Homo sapiens: one gene and its partners. The protein of the gene in region 1 interacts with the protein of each later gene in a pairwise test. Each region holds a gene or a part of one and is shown in the gene's direction. Other genes may lie near its edges. The genes, in order: DESI2, SPART, BNIP2 and COQ8A.

Region 1 (4,443 bases):
GGGAAAGTCAAAAAGAATCTGTGAAAAAGAAGAATTCACAAATAGGAAAATATCCAAGATTGACTCTTCCAATTGCCTGGGGCTTCTATTACTCTAATAATATATTGTATTAACAAGCGTCTTCTGTGTGTTCAAAGTACTTTTCAGTGTGTCTCACAGCAGTTGCAGAGATCAAAGAAAGGAGCCAAGTGAAATTAGCTTGATTTCACAGATATGAAAAGTAAGCAACTTGACAAGGTTCTTTAGAAAGGAAGGAATGGAGCCAACAGTAGGGAGCCCAGGTCCTGAGTAAAGAGCTGCTTGTTATCAAAAGCCTGGAGTGACACCACTGAAGGCTAGTCTGCCGTGGCTTCTCTGTACGCCGCCCCCCTCCTCCCACCCTCCACTCCCTGGCAGTGGACCAGGTAATCTTAACCTCTCTTACCTAATACAGAACTCTTTCTCTTCTGTAGATTCTTTGTGGGAAAGAGATTCCTCGCTGGATCAATCGACTTGCCTACTTCAGCTCCTGTATACCCTTTCTACAGAGTTGCCTCCCGAAGGAGTGGCTCACGCCCGCAGCCCTGCAGTCTAGTGTCAGCCAAGAACTCCAGGATGAACTGGAGGAAGCAGAGGATGCTGCCGCATCCGCTTCCGTGGCAAGCACTGCAGCAGGCTCCAGACCCGGGCGCCACACTAAACTATAAATGTCTCCAAAGTCACACATTCAGAACTGTCTCTGGCAGTCGAATATCACTAGAGAAAAGTAAACAGAGAAGCATCCTTTAGATATTTTGTATGCAAAGATGGCTCTCCCCCAAATCCCAGTTTTTCAGCTCAGGATTATATTTGTAATCAAAAAAAAAAAATCACTTGGCGCAGGAGGGAGAACTTTGTAAGAAGCTGCCCTCTGTTTTTTTTATCCACTCGTAAATCTGGATTTATTTCTTCTGTTTTATACAAGCTCTGTTAAGTTATGTTTACAGTATCTTGTATCGCTGTTTACAAATCTTGCATGGACTCCTGCCACAGTGAAAGAAGAAAATCTTCATGTCTTCAAAAATTAGGCAGGTAATCTTTGTATACTTCTGACAATTGCCAGATCTATGGCATAAATAGGCACACAAAAAGGTACTTAAACAGTTATAGTCACCATCACCTGCTTCAGAATGGTCTTTTAGATTTGTGTTTGTTTTGTTAAAGTTGTTGGCACCAGGATGCAGAGAATCAGACTGGCCTGAGGTGAAGGAGCACACAGCCCTGAGGGCTTGGAACCCTGGGTCCAGTTCCTCTTCACACCCCCTTCCACTCTGAGTAGCACATCTCCCCAGGTGCCCATGGAACACCTGCTTTCATCCCAAATATCCGTCCACCTAGGCGGGGTGGTATGTTCTTACGTCTCTCTGACTTTGATGCCACTCATTCTATAGTTTAGCTGGTTTTCGTTCAAGATATTCTTGGTAGTAACTGACAAGTATGTTGCACATGTATTGGGGGAGGCGCTTCATTTTTATTTTAATACACATGTATTTCCTCCTTGCACAGGATTTTGATGGTGTGGGAATATCCTAAGTGGTAGCCTTCCAAGTAGCAGTGAGTTGACATTCAGCTGCTTTTAACTATTCAGGCTACCTTTTATACTAAACCTTGAAAACTAGAATCTAATGTCTACCCCAAAAAAGTAGTTCTTTGATATTTTATACTTTTTATGTACCATGTCAGAAAGAGTATGTTGGCGTTTGTCATGGGACTCATTTCACATAATAGAATGCCTAGTCTCATTGACCAATCGTTAAAAAATCATATTTGTGTGTCTTAAGATTCATATTTATATGTTCTCTCAAATGTATGTCTCTTACGTAACATACTCTAAGAATGAAACTGTCACCACAGGTAAATCCTTGTTAGCAAGGAATCTGTCTGCTCCAGTCTACTCCTAGTTTGATCCTTGGATGTAAGAACCAAGTCATTACATGTCAAATTCAATTTTTCTGCCTTAAGAATGAATGTCCTTCATAAAATATTGGATGCAGTGTAACACTATCCAAGGCAGTGACTTCAGCTTTATATACATATAAAATATAGTTAGTTTTAAAATTATTGACATTTATTTAAACTTTTAGATTGGATTGTTTGCTATTGCTCTGTGTGAGGATACATAATCTTTCAGTAAACTGTATTTTTAACTTTTCCATAAGCTGATTTTGGTTCATTTTATCAACGTAAGCACACCCTGTTCATAGGGAAAATAAACCTTGGGTTATAAGCATTAGCCTGAGGACAATGAAGCCACTTAACCTAATTTATGCTTTCGACTGTTCTGTTTCCAGAGAGGAAAGCCTTTACAAATTACTCTCAGTTCTTTAGGGGCAGAAGGCTTGTTTCAAGAGGTTTGACAGAAGAAAGGAATATATGAACTTAATGAGATGTCGACTTGGTTCAGGTCTAAAAATGAGGGCAAAACACTAAGGCTCTAGCAGTGACTTGTTCACTAAAAAGAGAGAGTCCTGTCCCCAGACGGTTAGTACAAAGCCTTGGATACAGTTTGCTTGTAATATTTTTAATAATGTGAGGAGTACAGTGTTTTCTAATTCATTCAAGTATATATGATTTAAACCTGGGCTACTGACACACACACAGTAGCCATTAGTTAGACTCTTCTTAGTGAATATCAGGAACATCCCATCTGTGCTTAACCAGAATCCAGCAAGTCAGCACACAAGTGATTTTATTGTTATTTTGTTGTATTTACTTGCATTTGTTGTATTTACTTTCATCTGCAGCATTTGGAGTTTAAAAATAATGTAAAGGGTTCTAGTAGAAATAGTGTCCTAAGGCCAATTACCTACCATACTAACAATCAGCAGATAAAATTCTGGACGTGAGATTCCTTATAATCTAATTATACCTGAGGTTGAGCAAGAAATGTCTTCCTTTAGAAAATCTCATTCAAGTCAGGTTCTTCTCTACAGTTCAAAATTGAGAATGGATTTAATTAACTAGCATTTAGCCAGCTTTTTCTTGCCCTTGGAGAAAAAGAATCATTCTCAACCTGATAATCTGTTAAGAAAAATCCCATATGAACAATCTGGTCATTAACATACATATGATACGGAGTCTCTTTGTTGTCACCAAGTGAACATACTTCTCATGGTGGGTTGGACAGTAATACATGTTAGAGGGTCAGAAGCTTCTGGTTTCTGCTGTTTGCTTTAAATACCCTTGGGGTTTTTTTTTAAACCCTTACAAGGGGAGCATCAGCTTTGGAAAGTGTGACTCTGTAGGAGTGTAGAAGGCAGTGGTGTATGATCTTAGCCTCGTCCTGATGCCTGAATCCAGCCAGCTGTTGCTCTGACCCACAGCAATAGAGCAAGTTACCCATCACCAGCATTTGTACAGAGCAGGGAATTCTGGTTTTAGTCCATTGGTAGCATTGTGTGTATGAGGAGATTCAACACCACAGACAGCTGCAGGACTCGATATCCATGGCTTCTTTCCATCACAAAACGGGTAGAAACACATTCACTGCTTCAGGGTTCTAATCTGTGTGTCTCCTTATGACTCCATTTCTGTAAGCTACTCTGTAACTTTGATATATGCTGTATTTTCTTTCTTTAAAAGATTTAGATGTTTTTTCAGCAAGCTAGCCATACAACCATTGTATCTCTTTCTCTTCAGTATGGTTTAGAGCCCAGATCAGTTAGTAGGCTTTCGTTGTCTTCTCTTTCAATACATGTACATCTTTACTGTTTGAAAAGTGTTACAGCTGTCAAAGAATCTTCATGGACCTGAAGATAATTTCTTGTGAAGTTGAATGCAAGTGTACTGTCATTCATAGTGTTTATATCAAAATACCAGGAATCTTCACTTTTGCTACCTTGATATAGCATTGGGCTATCATGTTACAACATTGAAATACATTGATTTATTAAAAAATACTTTTATAAGAAATGTTTTATAGTGCTTTCTTTCAGATTATAACTGTTGTGTATTTGTGTTGGGCGGGGTGGGGAGGTATATTTTTAAAACCCAAGCATCCCGTGTGCTCGGCAGGAACATGACGGCCAGCCCCTCCATCCTTTCTTCCTCTCACATGCACATGTACCTTTATTCACCTGCATTGATCTTGAGCGCAGATCTGTGGGCCCAGTGCCTTAGCTGTCAGATAGCATAGCCACACCTGCTCACAGGGAGGGGTGCCAGCCCTGACTTCTGGGGAATGGAGGCAGAGGGGCAAGCTAGAACGGACTCCTCCCCCAGAGTGCAGGGAACAGACCTGCAGAGGAATAGCCCCGACTTATGCACACACTGTCCCTTGTCTTGAAGCAGCAAAGCAAGCAGGAGCCTGAGAGAATGAGCTCATTTCCTACGGACCTGTTCTCCAATGCTTGGCACCTCCAACCTGCCCCTTCCCCTTTCTCCTCCACTGGCCTTTTTGCACACTGTGGAGCAATATTTTCCTCT
Region 2 (7,035 bases), on another chromosome or scaffold:
TTAAGTATTTCATATGTTCAGCTTTGAAAGCTCATTGTTAAGTGTTAGCCAAAAAAGAAATATTTTAAATTGAAAGTCTCTGCAGAGTAGGGTAATACTTCTTCCATCTTAGGGGACACTGTTCTTACATGTTTTTTCTTTTCCCATCCCTCTCCCACTCCTTTCCCCACATTTCCACTGGCTGAGGACCTTTTGTCCTCACTAGAGAAGGCCCTTCCATCCCTCTGTTCCTCTGGTGAGCACTTCTGTCATTCAAGCTGCGAGAACATAAGCAAAGCAAAGCAAAGGGCTAGGGCCCACTGTCATGAGAAATGGCCAAATTATCTGGGCCTCACTCTTCTTCTTTTAGATTTTCTCTACTCATGCATTTGAGTGTTCTCATGTTTTTGTCATTCAGGTATGTGTAGCAAGCTAAACGGTGCTGAGATCCAAGAGTTTGGGTTTAGGATTCAGGAAGGAACAGGACCCCCTGACTAAAGCTTTTAGCCTAAAGAAAGTAAGAGTTCTGCCTTGGTGTTTGAGAGGCAGTTTCTTTGGTTTCCATTTTGTGATGTTTCTGTCTTTCTCCCTCAAGATTTCATGGGGAAAAGAGATGCCTGGCCTAAGGCAAAAAGAACAAGAATATCTGGGTTCTTTGGCCAAATTCTATCTTAATGGCACCAAAACTAAAAATTAATACCTAACAGTAATATACTGTGGTAAGTAACATATAGAGATACTGTTTGTGGTCATCTTCAGAAATTATCAGCTGCCACTAAATCTCAGGCCTTCTAGGTACTAGGTAGTGGCAGCATAGAGTAACGCAGAACTGTGTCACTAAGTATTCAGGAAGAAAACTGCAGGTATAAAGTTAGCTTGAAAGTTTATGACATGGCACATTTAGCATCTGAATATCAAACTCCTTTTATTTTTTTCTGGTTGATGTTATTTATTAAAGTGTTCAAAAGCATAATTAGCCCTAATATTGTGCAATTTTAAATTTTCTTTTAAAAAGGTGCTTCCTGGGTGAGTTGGGGTTTAGTCAAAGGTGCTGAGATTACTGGTAAGGCAATCCAGAAAGGTGCTTCTAAACTCCGAGAGCGGATTCAACCAGAAGAAAAACCCGTGGAAGTTAGTCCAGCTGTCACCAAGGGACTTTATATAGCGAAGCAAGCTACAGGAGGAGCAGCAAAAGTCAGTCAGTTCCTGGGTAAAGTAATTCTAGATAACTTTACTTTTTAAAGTTATATTTAAAATAATGTCTTAATCCAGGGTTAATCTGCATGTTCATTTAGATGGTTTAATCTCAAGAATAAAGAATTAGGACAAAGCAGTTTCTCTTTGTTATTCATAGTGAGACCTGCGGACCAGCAACATCACATCGTCCTATCTGGAATCCTTAGAAATGCAGAATTTTAGGGACAGACACACCTACTGATTCAGAATCTGCATTTTCACAAGATCCCTAGGTGATTCTTATTTGCACATTAAAGTTTGAGAAACTGGTTAAAGGGTTGTTCTGATGTGTTGGAGAGGAGAATGTGTGTATCTTTGAAAAAGAGTTCTGAATGTAAAGTCATGTATTGTTTAACGCAGGAGGTAAGTTCTAAGAAATGTGTCATTAGGTGATTTCATCATTGTGTGAACATCATAGCATGTACTCACACAAACCTAAACGTTGCCACTCCACACCTAGGCTATATGATATAGCCTATTGCTCCTAAGTACAAACCTATACACCATGTGACTGTACTGAATACTATAGGAAATTGTAACACAATGGTAAGTATTTGTGCATTTAAACACATCTAAACATAGAAAAGGTGCAGCAAGAATGCAGTATATAAAAGATAAAAAATGGCATAAAAACTGTAGAGAGCACTTACCAGAAGTGTCACTTGCAGGACTGGAAGTTGCTCTGAGTGAGTCACTGAGTGAGTGGTGAGTGAATGTGAAGGCCTAGGACATTACTATACACTATTGTAGACTTTTTAACACTGTACACTTGGGCCACACTAAATTTATTTTAAAAACAAAGTAATTGCACTATGATGTTATGGCGGCTGTGGTGTTACTAGGCAGTGGGACTTAATCAGCTCCATTATAATCTTATGGGACCATGAAATGTCTGAAATGACCAAACCATCATTATGCAGCATGACTGGATGTGAATCCTTGAGTCCTTCTAAGGGATATGACACATTCTTTCAAGGAGAGCAGTTTACTGCTTAGCAGTTGAGGGTCAAGAGGGAGGGATCTGTTGTTTGAGAAAAACTGACTTAGTGATTCTGGTGCCAACCTTCCCAAGCAATGTACTTCTAAATCCTTGCTCTTAGAGAATCACAGCACTGAAATTTGGTGTTTTGAGGTGGGTAGATAGGACCTTAATGGATTACCATTAAATTTAGTAAAATTATCTTTTTTGGTATTTAGTATTTTTTGAATCAGATTTTAGATTGTTTACTTTTATTCACCGAGATAACTGAGATATTTATCAGTAGAAAAATATGAATACGCTAAGCTGGAATAAGCTAAAAGTACCAACCAATCTTGCATTGCAACAGTCAGATAGAAAAGGTGGCTGGTTTTCTCAAGCAGAAGTGCAAGAGCATGTATATCTGAGAGGCAAGGTTATAAACATCAGTAGGCTCTGCAAGCACAGCTTTAAAGCAAACAAAAGCTTTCATTTAAAAAATAACCAGTCTATGCTTCATGCCTGTAGTCCCAGCTACTCAGGAGGCAGAGGCAGGAGGATCACTTGAGCCCAGGAGTACAAGTCAAGGCCAGCCTGGGCAACATAGTGAGACCTCCTCTCTAAGCTTCATATCCTTAAGAAGAAATTGTAACATTATATAGTAAAACAATTTAGATGTTCATTTAAGAATGTTGCAAGATGAGTGGTAAAAATCAAGGGAATAATATATTTTTCCTAAGTTTTCTTTTTTTATGGTCATATTAGTTGATGGAGTTTGCACTGTAGCAAATTGCGTTGGAAAAGAACTAGCTCCACATGTCAAGAAGCATGGAAGCAAACTTGTTCCAGAATCTCTTAAAAAAGACAAAGATGGGAAATCTCCTCTGGATGGTGCTATGGTTGTAGCAGCAAGTAGTGTTCAAGGTAACAAAGGGCCCAGAATTTTAACTATGAAGGTCCGTTTGCTTTGGACTAGATTTACATCGTTTTAAATATTATTTTTACAGGATTTTCAACTGTCTGGCAAGGATTGGAATGTGCAGCTAAATGCATCGTTAACAATGTTTCAGCAGAAACTGTACAAACTGTCAGATACAAGTAAGTTGAATTTTATTTTAATGACTAAATCTCTGTTTTGTTGTTGTTGTTGTTTTTCTGAGAGGGAGTTTCTCTTGTTGCCCAAGCTGGAGTGCAATGGCGCGATCTTAGGTCACTGCAACCTCCACCTCCCAGGTTCAGGCATTTCTCCTGCCTCAGCCTCCCGAGTAGCTGGGATTGCAGGCACACGCCACCATGCCCGGCTAATTTTTTTTTTTTAGTAGAAATGGGGTTTCACCACATTAGCCAGGCTGGTCTCGAACTCCTGACCTCAGGTGATCTGCCTGCCTCAGCCTCCCAAAGTGCTGGGATTACAGGCGTAAGCCACCATGCCTGGCGGACTAAATCTCTTGTAGCATTTGTAAAAACCCATGACGGTCAAGATATTTTTATTAAGTATCTGATAAAATAATTTTTTTCACTCACTGCTTTTCTTAAATAGGGAGAAGAATAGTATTTCTAGTATAATAACAGAATTCTTGTCACTTTGCTTTATGTTACTAATCATTATAAACATTTGTTCATCATTACTGTGAAGAATAAGGTTATTTTTTTTAAAAGCCTGGAATTTCTGTATACCTTATTAACTGACTACATGTTTTTGATGGGTGATATCTGCCTGAAAAAACTTGAATTATAATTAAACTCTTATACCCCATGTTAATATTAGCCCACTCGGTATACAGACTGTTAAAAATTATGTCACATCTTACTTGACTCTGATTACCACTGTACATTTGTATTGGAATGGGTAGATGGTATATCTTCAATTTCATATATTAAGAAATGGACAAACAGAAATGAATGATTTGCACAAACTCACCTGATTAGTGTTATGATTGCTTTCTTATTTGGCCTTAAGGTCTGTCTCTGGAGAGTGGCTATAAATTCTAATCCTGCTGTGTTGTGGCTCAAGAGGAAAAAATCTCGTGAATGTTTTCAGTGTGCGTTTCACAGGATACTTCTTTATCCTGGCACACCCATGACCAGGTGTCCCTCTCTCAGGGAACTTGTTTATGGCAGATGCCCTTGTGGCTCTTTTCTGACCTGTGTCCAGTTTATTCCTACTAAGATAGCTACTCTCTAGGAGACCCTGACTAGGAGGAGAGCAAGGTTTGGGTGTGTTGGTCAGGTGACACACAGAGAAGGCAGCACAACCAAACACACGAAATAACAGAAACTTTTTATTACTCACAGACCCTTGAGAGAAGAGCGGTATGCATGAGGGCCAACAGGAAGTCTGGAGATAGCAGAGTGCTCAACCAGTGGGTGGGGCGAGGGTGGGTGAACAAGGGAGCACGAGCAAGGGAGAGGTGATTTGTGTGACTGCCTTCACGAAAGTCTATGGGTGTTCTTCCTTTGGCTTTCCAGTGGGGCCTGTGGATTGACTAGTTTAAAGAAAACAAGTGTGAACAGGGGAACATTTACATGGCTCTAGTTTTACATGACTCTAGTGTTGACCATTGGATTTTCTCGTGGTCAGCAGCTGTGGGGGTGTGTTGGGTTTTGAGTCAGTGAGATGAGAAACAAGTATACTGTATTGCAGACAACCGCATGGGGGAGAGAGAAGTTTTAACTAGGCCAAAGGTGGTGGGATACAACTAGGTTTCAAGCAACTTATGTCAGGCCTAAAAATAAATGCTGAAGCAACAACTATATAACAAATTTATACAAGTGGTATTGAAGGTGAGAGTAAAGCAGGGTCTTCTGCTTTTAGCTCCTTATTCTTTCTACCTGACTCTACTTTCTTTATACAATACTAGAAGAATCAAGGTCTAAAAAATAAATCTAGTATGAAGGACCTGAGTTGCTTTCTTAGCCTTGAATTAGTTTGGATCTTACTATTTATTTAGAAAGAAAAAAGAAGAGCAATATTGATAGTATTCACAACTCGTGGTTATTTATGTTAATTATCCACTTATTGACAGCATTTAGTTGAGTTCATACTTTTGTATTAGGCACTGTGATCATTGCTTTTCCTACGTATTAATTAATTTTCAACACTGTTATCTCCATTTTGCAGATGAGGAAACCGAAATGTAAAGTTAAATACCTTGTTAAAGATTACTCTCCTAGTGAATAGTAGAGCTGGGATATAAACCAAGTGTTTCTGTCATCAGAACCTGTGCTCTACAGTGCTAATTTAATTTCCATCCTTAATTGGTTCGATCTGCTCCGTCTGGGGCATGAATACATTTGTTTGTTTGTTTTAAGATAGGAAGTAGGAATTGCTTTATTTTTACTTTTTTTATAATTTCAACTATTATTATAGATTAAAGGGTACATGTGCAGGCTTGTTACATAGAATTTGTTGTGTGATGCTGAGGTTTGGGGTACAAATGATCCCATCACTCAGGTAGTAAGCATAGTACCCAATAGATGGTCTTTTAGCTCACACTCCCCTCCTCCCTCCCCGGCCTAGTAATCCCCAGTGTCTATTGTTGTCATCTTTATGTCCATGAGTATCCAGTGTTTATTTCCCATTTATAAGTGAGAACATGTGGTTTTCTGTTCCTGCATTAATTCGCTTAGAATAATGGCCTCCAGCTGCATCCATGTTGCTGCAAAGGATATGATTTCATTTTTTTAGGGCTGTGTAGTATTCCATGGTGTATATATTAGCATGTTTTCTTTGTGCAGTCCACTGTTGATGGGTACCTAGGTTGATCCCATGTCTTTGCTGTTATGAATAGTGCAGTGAACATGTGAGTGAGTGCATGTGTCTTTTTGATAGAACAGTTTATTTTCTTTTGGGTATCAAATGGTAATTCCATTTTAAGTTTTTTGAGATATCTCCCAAAAGTGGCTGAACTAGTTTACATTCTGGGACATACATACCTTTGAATCAAATCAAAGCAATGTGGCATATCATTTTGGAGTGTCAGTTTTTTTTTTTTTTTTGAGACGGAGTTTCACTCTGTCACCCAGGCTGGAGTGCAGTGGCGCAATCTTGGCTCACTGCAACCTCCGCCTCCCAGGTTCACACCATTCTCCTGCCTCAGCCTCCCTAGTAGCTGGGACTACAGGTGTCCGCCACCATGACCGGCTAATTTTTTGTATGTTCAGTACAGACAGGGTTTCACTGTGTTAGCCAGGATGGTCTTGATCACCTGATTTCGTGATCTGCCCACCTCGGCCTCCCAAAGTTCTGGGATTACAGGCGTGAGCCACCACACCTGGCCAGAGTATCAGTTTTACCAAGAGTTGAGAGATAAAACATACAATAGATCTCAAATTCTTCTGATAGAAATATGAAACTCAAGTCTTCCAACTCACTTCTTGTCACCTGTGGCCTGAACTCTAATATTCATTCATTGTTTTATGACCCTGAGGTTACTTTGGATCAGTCATAATTAGAAAAATAGTTCTTTATTTGTAGCAAGAACAGGAGAAATTCAGAAATGCCTTTCAGGCCAAAAGTGAATTATTTTTAGATTATCATATTAGAAAATAGGAAGTGCTTTGTTGGGTTTTATGGCCTACTCTAATGAAAAAAAAAAAAAAAAACTTACCTAACTACAATTAGCTTATTAAAAGTTTGGGATTCACATAACTAGGAAATACTGGATTTTAATGTAGATTTTGTACTTCTGGTCCTTAATGAGAACTTAATATGATAAATAGCATATTTTTAACAGTGATTCTCAGCTCATTTATTTCTATTGTATTATTGCTATTCTTTTTATCCTTTCTTCCAAAGATTCATGGAATTTAAATAAAAACCAGGTAAGTGAGAATTTAGTTAAGTAGCTTTGTATTTCTAA
Region 3 (7,035 bases), on another chromosome or scaffold:
TCTACCCTGGGTGACAGAGTAAGACCCTGTCTCAGAAAAATAAATATCCCAGATCTTTTCACGTGCAAGTTTGTGAACAACAGAATGAAGGTTAAAGTAAAAGTATTTGTTACTAGATACAGGACTAGATGAGTCCTTATTCTTTGATATTATGGAACGATAGTTTTCCAATTCAAGAGAAAAATTGTCATTTTAAAACTGGGAAATATATCTCAGATTATTTGTTCCAACTTTGTTTCGTTTTGTTTTGAGATGGAGTTTCACTCTGTCACCCAGGCTGGAGTGCAGTGGTACAACTACGGCTCCCTGCAGCCTTGACCTCACGGGCTCAAGCCATCCTCCTACCTCAGCCTCCCTAGTGGCTGGGACTGCAGGCACATGTCACCACATCCTGCTGACTTCTTAATTTTTGGTAGAGACAGAGTCTCACTATGTTGCCAGGGTTGGTCTCAAACTCCTGGGCTCAAGTAAGCCACCATGCCTTACCTGTCCCAACTGTTTTATGTTAACATTTGCAGGCACATTAAGTGTAAAGAAGTGATTTTTGTCTCAAAATCATGTGGCTAAATTACATTTACCCCTAGAAGGCCAATATAATTGAGCCAAATCAGTTCTTTTTCCACAAGGTCATTCTATTTCTCAGGTTAGTGCAGTTTTTAAAAACCGTATTGTGGAAAGTTTCAGACATACACAGGGGTAAAGAGAAGTATATCAAATCTTCATGTATCAGTCACTTCAACAATTACCAATTTATACTTTGTTCCCACTTCTAACCCCCAGTTTACAAGTTTGAAGCAAATCCCAGGAGCAAATCATTTCACCTAGAAACATTTCAAAATATATCTCTAAAAAATAAGATAATCGTAATACTAGCTAATGCGGTTTGAGCATTTTCATTGTTGCTCTCATTGTAGGAGAGAGGAAGGAATTGTATAATGGTACAATTTAGAGAACCTAGTTCAGTTATGCACAGTGATTTTTAAGGCTTAAACTTAATTTGTTTTTTACAGATATGTTATTGGCACTTTGGAGCTATTAGTAGCAGAAAACTACATGATAGTTTATTTAAATGGTGCAACAACTCGAAGAAAAATGCCCAGTCTGGGATGGCTCAGGAAATGTTATCAGCAAATTGATAGAAGGTAATACAAATACAAGTTGAAAGCTAGTCTGAAAAAATTTTATAATGGCTTTAGGAAATCAAACTTTGTTTTTCGTTGCTATTTTTTTTTTTTAACTTTTTTTTTTTTTGAGACGGAGTTTCACTCTTGTTGCCCAGGCTGGAGTGCAATGGCACAATCTCGGTTCACCGCAACCTCCACCTCCCAGGTTCAAGCGATTCTCCTGCCTCAGCCTCCCAAGTAGCTGGGATTACAGGCATGCGCCACCACGCCCAGCTAATGTTGTATTTTTTGTAGAGACGGGGTTTCTCCATGTTGGTCAGGCTGGTCTCGAACTCCTGACCTTAGGTGATCCACCCGCCTCGGCCTCCTGAAGTGCTGGGATTACAGGCGTGAGCCACCGCGCCCAGCCTTCTGTTGCTATTTTAAAACACCATTTATTTTTTAAATTTTATTTATTTATTTCATGGCAGGTTTCTGTTTTCTAAAGATAGCATTTTAGAATATTGTGAGGGAAATCAATTTTGATTTTTCTATAAAGAATAACCTTAATTCTTCAAACTTACAAAGTAGCTTTATATTTCTCCTTATTTAATTGAAGACTTTCTCCTTATTTATAAGATGCAATTTTCTCCACATTGAACACTTTTTTTCCTATTATTTACGTCTTGGCAAAGGATGGAGAATGTAGTATGTTTCCTATTTCATTACATTGAGTTTTGCCTAATTTATAGTGCTTAGCATGTTTTATGTTTTTGTTTTTGTTTTGTTTTGAGACAGGGTCTCACTCTGTCATCTAGGCTGGAGTGCAGTGGTGCAATCTCTGCTCACTGTAGCGGCAACCTCCCAAGCTCAGGTTATTCTGCCACCTCAGCCTCCCAGGTAGCTGGGACTACAGGCATGTGCCACCACACCCAGCTAATTTTTGTATTTTTTGTAGAGACAGCGTTTTGACATGTTGCCCAGGCTGGTTCTTGAACTCCTGGACTAAAGCGATCCACCTGCCTCAGCCTCCCAAAGTGCTAGGATTACAGGCATGAGCCACAGCGCTCAGTATTTATGTTTTTTAATGGTGCTTATTTAGTTGTAATCTTTCTTTGGAACAAGCTTTAGAAGTGTTTTGTCTTGGGAGTTAGTCATCAGTACTTAATGGAAGGAATGTGATCTTCCGATTGGTTTGATCTTGCTGTGGCTAATTTAAATCAAGTCAGACCCATTAATAGGTTTCTCTTCACATCTAAATTTGACATTGGCTAGCTCTTATGATTATATATGTATCTCACTTTATGTGTGAAATATGCATAATACAAAGAGTATTTAGTCATTTAAAAAGGAGAAGTCTAGGATAAAACCTTTAATTTTTAATCAAAACTTTAAATTCCTTAAGAATAGGAGTTAGATCTGATTTGTTTTTGTTCCTGTGGTCATCTTCTCCACTCACACTTCTCTGCCTGCACAGTGCTTTTCATGGTTTTGAAGAACTTAGCACCAATTTCTCCCTAGTCTTGGAAAATGAGAATAGTTTACTTTTACATTCAGTATTGGCCTCTTTCCCTGTTTACAGAGTCCTGAAGACAAGTGAATGTGTATGCTAGGAGACATTTAGTAACAGGCTATACTGTGGACGTAAATCTGGCCAAATGAAGTAAAGTTCATTTCATAGCAGTAGGAGGGACCATAAGAATTTAAGAGTGCATTTTCTTGTCTACAGGGGTATCACACCTAATTGAGAACTTTTGGGTGAGATTTTTCAACTATTATTTTGTATAAACTTGCAGCATTAGAATTTATAGAAATTTTTAATTTTCTTTGTGTGTGTGTGTTTTTTTTTTAAACTCCAGGTTACGGAAAAATCTAAAATCCCTAATCATTGTACATCCTTCTTGGTTTATCAGAACACTTCTGGCTGTTACAAGACCATTTATTAGGTAATTTTTGAGAGCCATTGACTTTAATTTTATTTTTTTTATTTATTTATTTTTAGTTAACACATAATAACTATACATACTTATGGGATACAGAGCTATATTTTGATATGTGTATACATTGTATAATGATCAAACCTGGGTGATTAGTACATCCATCACCTCAGACATTTATCATCTTTTTGTGTTTTGAACATTCAAAATGACATGATTTTTGTATCTTGTAAACATTGTATCCATTGTATTTGTCAGAAATATGGAAGTAATTATTTTTATTTTCTTCCATAGCTCGAAATTCAGCCAAAAAATTAGATACGTGTTTAATTTGGCAGAACTAGCAGAACTTGTCCCCATGGAATACGTTGGCATACCAGAATGCATAAAACAGTATGTTTTGTTTTATTTCCTTAATTGTATTGGATCTTAACATTTTGATGTGCAATGGATAATACTTTTCAATACTCATTCTTTATGTATTATATTTTATAACTGTGCGCGCGCGCGCGTGTGTGTGTGTGTGTAACAAAGAAAAAGAGGAAGAAGCCATTTTCCCACACCATCCCCCTAAGTTAGCATTTTCTTCAGGCTGTCAGTTGAAGAACTAGGATAAATTATTTCCGGTTGTGATTCATGTTATACTTTTATAGACTACTTATAATCTAAGAGATGATTTCTCTAATTGATCAGTACTAAAGAGCATTCTCCAAACTTGAACATAGTGCTCAACAAATTTGAGTAAACTGATCATCAATATTATTATTGAATAATCATATTGCTAAATAAATAAAAATATTTAAATCATCATAACCTTAATGTTTTCCAGTGACTGAAATTCTGTTCTGATTATCAGATTCACATTCTTCCATGTAACTTCTTGGACTTGGTAGAAGGCTGTTAACATAAATAACTGAGTATTACAATGCATGTGGAAAAGTTTCTTTGTTCTGCTCACCTGAGGTTTTAGTCTATTTAATGTATGAAAGTCAGATTTATTAAGTAAATTTTTACTTTCTACATCATGTAGTAAATATTTTTGGTTTTGCTGGAAAATTTAAATGAGTTTATTTTTAGTAGCTTTTTTCAAGTTTTTATTCATTTTCATAACATGTATATTTACTGAAATAACTCTTCCCTACAAAGGTATGAAGAAGAAAAGTTTAAAAAGAAACAAAAAAGGTATATGCACACCTTGACTGGGTTGCATCTAGACTAGTCCATTTGCATTGCAGACTAACTCTTCCTTATTGGTTGGTTAGCTTGTAGACAAAGATAATAGCATTTGCAAATATAAATGTACCCCAACTTCCAAATACAGGGTGAACCCAGAGTTCCTAAGGCTGAATATGACTTGGATTCACCATGTTTTATTGCCATATATGATGCCAATTAGCAATTAAAAACCACAGACCCTTCTCTCTCCTTCTTAGTCTAAGTACTAATGGTGAAACCAGAGAAATTACTAAAAATGGTATTTGGAACACCAAATAATTTTAAGACTTTATCTGTTTCACCATTTTCTTTAAATCGCTAACTTGTGCTTTTGAAATATTTTTGCAGACTTTTTAAAAGTTCTCAATTTATTTCCCTGGGGTTGATTATTATATTTGCAATGCATATATACTTTGGCTAACCAACATTGGTTTCCTTTTATGCTTAAATTAAATGGCTTGCTAACCAGTCAAATTCTACATGTGATAAAATACCTAAAATCTCAGTGTCCCATTTAACAGTTAAACACTTCACTTTCTATTTTAAATTTAATTTTGAACACTTCTGCTTTGAGCATAACAAACTATTATCTATTGATACCTTGACATAGATGATGAAAGGCAAGGGTATAAAATACTTAGAATTTTGTATAATAATTTAGAAAAACGTAGAATTTAGATCTAGTTTGTTAGATCTTTAAAATATTGGCAATTAAATTAGCAAAACATAGTTTAATACAATCTTAAGAGTTACGGTGAGAGATTTATATGTAATTATCTTGACCATTCTAAGGAGCCAACTGTAACTAACTGGAACATTCTTAACTTTGAACACATTTTGTTTCTGTTGATGAGTGAGAATTTAGTAGACTTTGTGATAGAATCAGTTTTACACTTCTATATGACACTTCACAGTTTAACCAACACTTTAACATAGAAATGTAGACAGTGATTTTAGATCATGCTGATTTCACATTCCTTTCTAGGCATTGCTGTGCATTCGACAGACAAGTGGCTGAAATTAAAAATATGATTTGTAATTGTAGAATATTTTGAAGCCAGCTGCTTCATAGATTTCACAGTGAATTGCCTTTGTTGATAAAATATGCTGTATTAAGCCTTTTTAAAAAAAGTTTTTAATACTGTTAAGTAATTTAGACATCAGAAAAAATATGGAATTTGTACTTTTTATTTAAATATATTGTTTGAAACCTGTCACTATTTTATCTTGATTTTTTTTTTACTTGTGTTTAACCATAAATAGAATGATTACATGTATCTTTCAAAAACGTTCTGTTTTTTGTAGTTTCTTTAGTCTTAAAAAATAATAAATTTTTGTCAATCTGAAAATGATAAAATTTAATTTTTAAATTAAATTTAGGTAGAGAGGCATGTTTTGTTTTGAGACAGAGTTTCACTCTTGTCACCCAGGCAGGAGTGCAATGGCCCAGTCTCAGCTAACTGCAATCTCTGCCTCCCGGGTTCAAGCGATTCTGCTGCCTCAGCCCCCCAAGTAGCTGGGATTACAGGCACCCACCACCATGCCTGGCTAATTTTTGCATTTTTAGTAGAGACTGGGTTTCACCATGTTGGCCAGGATGGTCTCGAACTCCTGATCTCAAGTGATCCACCCACCTCGGCCTCCCAAAGTGCTGGGATTACAGGCGTCAGCTACCACGCCCAGCCTAAACCAAACTTTACAGAAGCTAGGTGCAAGGGAGCTTATTTAAGGTGACAACTGCATGATATGATAAGTAGTGGTGCTAAGAAGAGTATGAAGCTATGAGTCCCTATGGCAGGTTTTTGGGGAGCAGGGGAAGAAGGGGCAAAACCATTTTCTTGAGGGGCTTGTGGGGAAGAGGGTTGAAGAAATGTTGACAACAGGGAGATCCAGTGTCCCCAGTGACAGAAAAAGGATAGCAGTTTAAATGTTTAAAATGTTTCTTTCAAACAACTGGATGCAAGTGTGGCCATGCAGATACAGATTGTTAAAATGTTTCAGGGGAGTTTAAAAATAATTATGAAATTAGTTGGTAAGGATATTTCAGATGTTAAGAGGATTTGATATATTTTGCATGCCTTATCAGAAATACATTCCAAATTTTTTATAACAATATTTTAAATATTTTAAAATGTTACTTTGGCTTTACCACAGACCAGGGCTTTTAGGTCTGTTTCACTAATATTCAGGTGGGCATAGTAATGGGTGATGAGAATAAAAACATATGAAAAATATTTTTCTTTATCTAATACCGGATTGTTTTAAAGGTCCCTTCATCAGTTATTCAGACCACTACAAATGTAATAGTAATAGACTGTTAGCTTTGAAGGGTTGTCTGTAATTATTATGTGGTAATTATGTAATCCTTCTAATGCCCACATGCGTAAATTTTGATATGACTGATGTCCAACCCACCACTAAATAAATAAGCTTTTTGATGGGTTTTTGTTTTGTTTTTTTGAGACAGGGTCTTGCTCTGTCACCCAGGCTGGAGTGCAGTGGTGCAGTCTCGGTTCACTGTCGCCTCCGTCTCCAGGGCTCAAGCAATCCTTCCACCTCAGCCTTCTGAGTAGCTGGGACTACAAGTGCACACTACCACACCTGGCTAATTTTTGTATTTTTTGTAGAGACGGAGTTTTGCCATGTTGCCCAGGCTGGTCTCAAACTCCTGGTCAAGCAGTCCGCCCGCCTCGGCCTTCCAAAGTGCTGGGATCATAGGTGTAAGCCACTGTGTCTAGCCAATAATTAATTTATATTAGATATTTTTGAATGTTAAATTC
Region 4 (7,035 bases), about 18 Mb from region 1:
GCTGTGTGCAAAATTAGACAGGAATATTTAGACAGAGAGTTGTCTTGATTTGACAGTGGCATCTGGAGATACTTCTGTCATTCCTGTTAAGCAACAGCCAGGAACTCGGGAGAGCCAGTGGAAAGGAGAGCTGGTGGGAGTGAGTGAGTTCGAGGGTCCTGCTCTTTCTGGAGTTGCACATATGGAGGGGTGGGAGCCCCACGGAGGTGGTTTGTGAGAAGTGAGGATGGCCCGAGTCCCCAAGGGGAGATAGAACTGAAGGCATGGATTCAAAGAAATTTATGCAGGTGGAATTTCTAGACTGACTACCTGACTGGATATATGGCTGAGATTTCTAATCAGGGGGAGGAGCTGGTTGATGGAGGAAGAGCTGGTTTGGGAGAAGGTGGTCATCTTAGTTTTAGACATGATGGGAGCCTATGGGACTTCTTTCCATCCTGTTTGATATAATTTGCATACGGTAAATTCATCCTTCTTAGTGTGCAGTTCTGCGCAGTTTGACAAACGCACATAGTCACATAACCCCTACCACAATCAAGCTATAGAACAATTTCATCACCCTCCGAAATTTCCCTGCACCCCTTTCCAGTTGCCTGTGGGTCTTTGAAGTGGTGATGCGGTATGTGTGTGTGTAACTTGGTTTGTTCTGGAAATGGGTTCGGTTGTTGAGAGGTCCTGCCTGGCCTGAGTGTGGGGAGGCATCAGTGCAGAGCCTGTGGAGGGGCTCTGGCACCCCAGGAGCCAGTGCAGATGGCAGGGAGGCAGGGGTGTCGAGGACCAGCCTGGGAACTCCCAGGCCTTGGAGTAGGTGGAGAAAGAGGAGCTGGGGGAGGAAGCTGAGGAGGTGAGGCCAGAGAGGAGGGAGGAGGGAGGGCTTCTGGGAAGAGTGTGGGGCCAGCAGGGAACACTGTGGGGCAGGGGGTGGCTGAGGAGACCCACTGGCTTGAGCCCTCAGGTGTCACAGAGGGGCAGCTTGGGGTTGGGGCCAGAAAGTGTGTGCCGAGGGAGCAGGGAAGATGGCAAGTGCACTCCATCCTTGGGAGATGGTAGCCATGTCCAGAGGGTGGAGGAGAAGCAGAGCCTATGGGAGGTTTATTTAAATGTTTGGTACAGGAGAGCAGAGAGTGGGCTTGTGGGCTTCAGGGGAGGGCTTTTATGATTGAAGGCAAAAGAAAAAAATAGGTCAGGGGCAAGGTCTTGTTGCGGGAAGGAGGAGGGATGGTCAGTGTGGGAGGAGATTGGACAGAGGCAGGGGAAGGGTCTGAGAGATGTGGCCAAGAATGTGCGGGCCCTCCTATCTGGTTGCCCCCATTTCTGGAGTAACAAAGGTCCGCTAAAGAGGGGTCGAGGCCTTCTGTTTAATGTGAGAGGGCCAGGGGTGGGGGCTTGAAGAGCCTTAGGTGCCTCAGCATCCTTTGAGGAGTTGTACCCTGAGAGAGAGAGAGAGAGAGAGAGAGAGAGAGAGAGAGAGAGAGAGAGAGAGAGAGAGTGAGAGAGAGAGAGTGAGAGAGAGAGAGTGAGAGAGAGAGAGTGTGTGTGTATGTGTAGAAGGGAGGCAGGAAGGTAGGTGTTTCCGGGTCATTTGGAAAAGCCCAGTCCCTTATCTCTCCCTACCTCTGCACCGTCCACTGGAATTTTCCATTTCCCAGAGGTGTGTTTCCTGAGAGACAGAGAGGCTGTAGCGCCCCTCTCTGCCTTTCTGAAGACAGCAGGGTTGGTCTGCCTCTTACCTCTCACTATTTCATAGAATCTCTAGAAGGATCAGTATCTGCGTTGTTTTGAGCATTACTCTTTCTAGACCCCGTTACATCCCAGCTTTCAGAACAGCCCTGTGTGTGCTCTCCTTGCTGACTTTCTGCACTCCAGGGATGCATGGCCCTTTCCTAATCTCTGGGAACTAGACCTCCTCCAGGTCAGTCGCCTCACTTACACATGAGGAAATGAGAAAACGCAGGCCCCAAGAGGAGAAGCGGTGTGCCTGAGGTCACCCGCGCTTGGTGGCCTTGCTGTTGGTCCTCCCCGTCGGCCCTCATCACAATATATGCGGTGTCATCTGGGAACTGGAGGACCTGGTGGCAAGTCCCTGCTGTTCACGGGGCTGGATGAGGGGTCCTGGGGACAGTCCACATGAAAAGAAATGTTAAAGTTCAAGCTCAGAGCCTGGGCCCCAGCCCAGTGTTTGTTCTGTGCTTGGCACATTTTTTGTTTGGCACTGATACTGGCTCAGAGGAGGGTAAAAGTAAGAGTCGATTGCCCGGTAAGCTGAAGGTGGTTACTGTTTGACACGTGCTTGAGCAAACATCTCTAATCTTCCCGAGATTGAAAAAATCCTGTGGCTCTTGCTCCCTAAGGTGTTTACAGCCAGCATGTGGTCAAGGGTTGGACATTGTGCTGCCGCGATGCCTGTTGTAGCTGCTGTTTACACCTGCTTGGTGCTCACGGTTCATGGGCCAGGGCTGATTGGCCTGCTGAGGAACAGCTGCCTGCTGGCTTCAGCCCCTCCTCTTTTCCCTCAGTCTTAGACAGGGACGGGGGTGACGCAGAGGAAGCAGTAGCAGTGACTGCGTCCCCTGCTCCCTCCCTGGGTCTGTGTGCCCACCATGAGCGGGATTATGAAGCTGGCTTGGAAACTCATCTGGCTTTTGCTCCTGTAAAAATCACTTTTTGAACAGGGTGCTGCTGCCATTTCTGTGGCTGTGCATGTTGGGGATTCAGGTTCCCCTGGTGCTCAGCCTCCTCGGTGGTCTCTTCAGTCCTGGGCTCTCGATGAGGGAGCTCAGGAAGCCACGGAGCCTGGGTGCCTGGGTCCTGCCTCACTGACTCATAATGCTAATAAACTCGTGTGTATGAGGACAGTGCCAGACCCCGTTGGGGGTACAGAACTGGGAAAGAGAGGGCCCCTCCCTCCGGAGCTTACCTTGCAGTAAGGGAAATGGGACAGGCACACACAGAGTCATACAGGGCATGGCGAGGTGACCTTAGGCCATTAAGAGATGAGGGAGTTTAGAGGAAAGGAGATGACTTGCCTATGGAGGGGTTTACCAGTCCAGCAGGGTGGCCAAGATTCCAGCAGGGGAAATGATATTCCATGGGGAGGAGGGAGCAGGATGTGGAAGCTGGAAAACCTGTGTGGGTGTTGGGCGGGGCCGGGGGTCCATTCTGGCTGAAGCGTTGGGGCACGGAGGCATCTAGCGAGAGGTATCGCTGCAGAGGTGTCTGGGGCTCCACAGTGAAGGGCCTTGCTGGCCAGGCCAGACCAGGGAGAGTGGAGATCAGCAAGGAGATGGCCACCTCTCCTGGGTCTGTGGTCCCCTTGCACCCTGCTGAGCCTCTTCTCATTTCTCGTTGCGTGTGTGGTTGTTGTCTGTCTAGGATTGCCCCTTGTCTGGGTTAACTGGGTGATTTTAAAAGCTATCGAGGTTTTACATACACATGTAGTGCCTAAGGGTTGTGTGTGACCTCAGGGCAGAACATGTTTATTTAACTTCCATACCAGTGATGTGTGCATGTCCACACCTGGCCTGTGTGTGGCATTTGGAGGTGATGCTAATAAAGGTTGGTGCTGGTGTTGAGTGTGGCAAGACTGAGGGCCGTGTGCCCGATGGCTCCTCCTAGCTCTTGCACACCCAGAGGCAGTCTTCAGTGTAGGGCGTCTGCCTCTTTCCACTATTTATGTTTAAGATCAAACTGGCTCTGGAACCAAGCTTTGCCTCTAGTGGGTAGGATCACTGGTGCTGAGAATTGTGATACCCTCAGTCCTGGCAGCTGACAAACTTTCCAGAGCAGGGAGTTTGGCCAGATGGCCTTTGAGAGCCCAGCTGGCCCCAGAATTTTTATGACTCAATTTTCTGTAACCAGGAAGACACATTTCAGGATGTAAACCTTGCTGATGTCTCATATTGAGTGACTATTGATTTAACAAAAAAGGAGTTATTGATTTGGGGCAGTGTTCTTCTCTGCTATCTCTCAGCTTCCTAGGCAGTAAGAAGAAAGGACTGGAGCCTGAGTCAGACAGGTGTGGAAGGGTCCAGCATCCCACAGCTTTGGCCCTTAGGAGATTGCTCAGCCTTGATGAGCTTTAATTATCCTATCAATGAGTGGGGATAATACCTCACCAGGTCTTTGTAAGAACTAGAGGTAATATAAAGTGACAGGCAGACAGAGGGGAATAATAAATGGTAGCTGTTCTTGTTATTATTCCTATTTCATTGAGATATTAAACCTGAAGTAAAAGTGTTTTGAAAGATTAAGAATATAAAACCGAGGCCAGGCACGGTGACTCACACCTATAATCCCAGCACTTTGGGAGGCCGAGGTGGGCAGATCACTTGAGGTCGGGGGTTCGAGACCAGCCTGAGCAACATGGTGAAACCCTGTCTCTACTAAAAATACAAACAAATTAGCCAGGTGTGGTGGTACCCACCTGTAGTCCTAGCTACTCAGGATAATCACCTGTGCCTGGGGAGGTTGAGGCTGCAGTGAGCTGTGATCATGCCACTGAATTCCAACCTAGGCAACAGTAAGACCCTGTCTCAAAAAAATATATATATATATATATCTATCTGCCTGGCATGTAGTATGGGCCCAATATAGAGAAAGTCAACAGGACTCCGTCATTAAGAACAGGAATGCACTGAGCTGTCTGTGGGGTAGTCTACCACCCAGCTTGGTGCCTCGCACTTGGTTGGCATTCAGTAGTATTTGTGGAGTGACCAAAGTTAATTTAGAAGAATGGTCTGGAAATTATTCTAGAATACAGCCCCTCTCCCCAACCCAAGGATCTGCTTTAATTTCCTATGGCTGTTGTGATAAATTACCACAAAGTTTGTGGCTCAAAGCATCATAAATGTATGATCTTACAGTTCTGGAGGTTAGAAGTCTGAAATTGGTCTCACTAGGCTAGAATCAAGGTATCAGCTGGGCTGGTTCATTTCTGGAGGCTCAAGGGCAGGACCCGACCCCTTGCCTTTTCCAGCCTAGAGGCTGCCTGCATTCCTTGGCTTGTGGCCTCTTCCTCACAATGGCATCACTCCAGCCTCACTTCTGTCTCCCATCACCTCGTTCTGACTCTGCCCTGCCTGCCTCCCTCTTATATGGGCCCTTGTGATTACATTGGGCCCACCTGGATAATCCCCCATCTCAGGATCCCTGACTTCATCATATCTGCAAAGTCCCATTTGCAGGTAACATTCACAGGTTCTGGGGATTGTGGTATGGGTATCTTTGAGACACCATTATTCAGCCTACCACAGCCACCCACAGTATTTTGGCCAGATTTAAAGACAACCCTGTAAGCGTCTGAAAGAAACGTTGAAAGAAACCCTTCAACCTCAACTTTAGGATCCTTAATTACCTTCCTGGGTGGCAGTGGTTCGTGAATTCAGTCAACGCTTGCGCTTGTAATTTGTGTGGGTGGATCACTCTGTGTGTGTGGGTGGAGTGGGAAGAGTCAGAGTTGTCTGAGACAAGAGCCTCCCACAAGGAGCTTATAGTTTGAAGAGAAGAGAGGTCCATGTGCAAGAAGAAGAGTAACTTACAATGTAGGAATCTGACCAGCAAGTTAGATCAGCTGTCAGGAGAACGTAAATATGGAAGAGCTGGGAATCAAGGGCCTGAATAGGAATACGTTCTTGAATTTATATGGTGCTTTAACACATTTCAAAGTATATCCACCCACCCCTCCATTTATATTGGACAATATAATAACTTATACCATCATTTCGAGGAGAGGAAACAGGTCAGAGATGGTTCGAGAATATGCCTGGAGCAGCCCAGCTGGTCAGGGCAGAGCTGATTCCCAGCCCCAAGGCCCCAAGGCCCTCACCCTTGGCTAATGGGTGGGTTTTCAGACGTACAGAGATGAAGGGGCGAGCGGGCCTGCCTGAGAAAGTAGGACCTGCAGAGTGGAGTGCGCTCACATGGCTCGCGCGTAGCTGGAGGCTGGAAAGGAGGCCGGGGGCCTGATTTCGATGCCTGGGACTTCAGGCGCAGGAGTTTGGGTTTTATATATATGTCTACATACATGTCTACAGGTAGAGGAGCCATTTGAGCAACGCGTTGGCATGATGAACGTGGGTTTTTTTATAGGGAGAGGAATCTGGCAGGAGAGTGTTCCATGGCTCGGAGCTGGGGAGCTTGTGGGAGTTAGAGGGGTTTTCTTCCCAACTGCCTCTCCCTGAATGTACCTGGACAAAAGCCTCCCATGCTGTTTTCTCCTTTAAGGTGAAGTGGTAAGGAATACCAGTGGACATTTGTGTCCCTGGTTTCGAAGCAGGCTGCCAGCACTTTGGACTGCCTCTCCTGAATGATGCCTCATACCACAGCACTAAATAAACCACACTGGTCCTCCCCAGCCCAGCCTTCCTCCCAACTCAGGTATGAGACTGTGCCTGGCAGGAACAACTGCGGGTTATCCAGACTGATCCCATTCACCCTAACCGTTGGTCTCACCAAGTCTGAACTTCATTCCAGAATGTCTGTGTGCTTGCAATACTACTACTAATAATAATGGCATTAGCTAATGGTTTTTAAGCACCTACTATATGTCCTGAATGCTGTTACATGGATTTATCCAGTCCTTTCAAGAACAGATGAGGAAACTGAGGCACAAAGATAAGCTCACATGACTTGATTTAGGTCACACTAGCAAGTCAGTGGCAGAGTCATGATGTGAACCCAGATCACCTAACCTCAGAGCATCTTAACCATGTCACCAGTATCACTTCCTGAGCCAAATATTTTAATTTAAATGTTTTAAGCAGTAAACTTCACTAGGTTTTTAGTCAGAAAACTAAATTGCCATCAGGACCTTGCGCTTGGCTGGTTGGCCTTTAAAAGCCTTGTGTGTCATCGGCTATATCAACTCACAGAGTGGGAGAGGCTGCTTGGGACCCTCTGTTGCCTGCCTGTGGTTGGAGCTCTGAGCCCATGCAGGTTCGCTCACAGTGTTGGGTCCTTCTCTGGACTATCATCAGAGGCTGGAACTTTGCCTTCTGCTGCTTTTATATCACCCCCAACCCTGCCCAGCTCCCAACC

The links.
Region 2: the proteins of DESI2 (region 1) and SPART interact in binary tests that used the Homo sapiens proteins (3 or more experiments, as listed by UniProt).
Region 3: the proteins of DESI2 (region 1) and BNIP2 interact in binary tests that used the Homo sapiens proteins (3 or more experiments, as listed by UniProt).
Region 4: the proteins of DESI2 (region 1) and COQ8A interact in binary tests that used the Homo sapiens proteins (3 or more experiments, as listed by UniProt).

What each region holds. Positions count from the first base shown.
Region 1 is NC_000001.11:244,705,104-244,709,546, forward strand, and holds the end of DESI2 (deubiquitinase DESI2), read left to right. Parts: intron 1-452; coding exon 453-686; 3' UTR 687-3,930; downstream 3,931-4,443. UniProt on the Homo sapiens protein: Has deubiquitinating activity towards 'Lys-48'- and 'Lys-63'-linked polyubiquitin chains. Deubiquitinates 'Lys-48'-linked polyubiquitination of RPS7 leading to its stabilization.
Region 2 is NC_000013.11:36,308,381-36,315,415, reverse strand, and holds part of SPART (spartin), read left to right. Parts: intron 1-994; coding exon 995-1,189; intron 1,190-1,333; exon of another isoform or gene 1,334-1,448; intron 1,449-2,938; coding exon 2,939-3,097; intron 3,098-3,180; coding exon 3,181-3,271; intron 3,272-7,035. UniProt on the Homo sapiens protein: Lipophagy receptor that plays an important role in lipid droplet (LD) turnover in motor neurons.
Region 3 is NC_000015.10:59,665,290-59,672,324, reverse strand, and holds part of BNIP2 (BCL2/adenovirus E1B 19 kDa protein-interacting protein 2), read left to right. Parts: intron 1-1,010; coding exon 1,011-1,142; intron 1,143-2,962; coding exon 2,963-3,049; intron 3,050-3,334; coding exon 3,335-3,433; intron 3,434-4,186; coding exon of another isoform or gene 4,187-4,222; intron 4,223-7,035.
Region 4 is NC_000001.11:226,943,261-226,950,295, forward strand, and holds part of COQ8A (atypical kinase COQ8A, mitochondrial), read left to right. Parts: intron 1-54; exon of another isoform or gene 55-143; intron 144-6,222; exon of another isoform or gene 6,223-6,375; intron 6,376-7,035. UniProt on the Homo sapiens protein: Atypical kinase involved in the biosynthesis of coenzyme Q, also named ubiquinone, an essential lipid-soluble electron transporter for aerobic cellular respiration.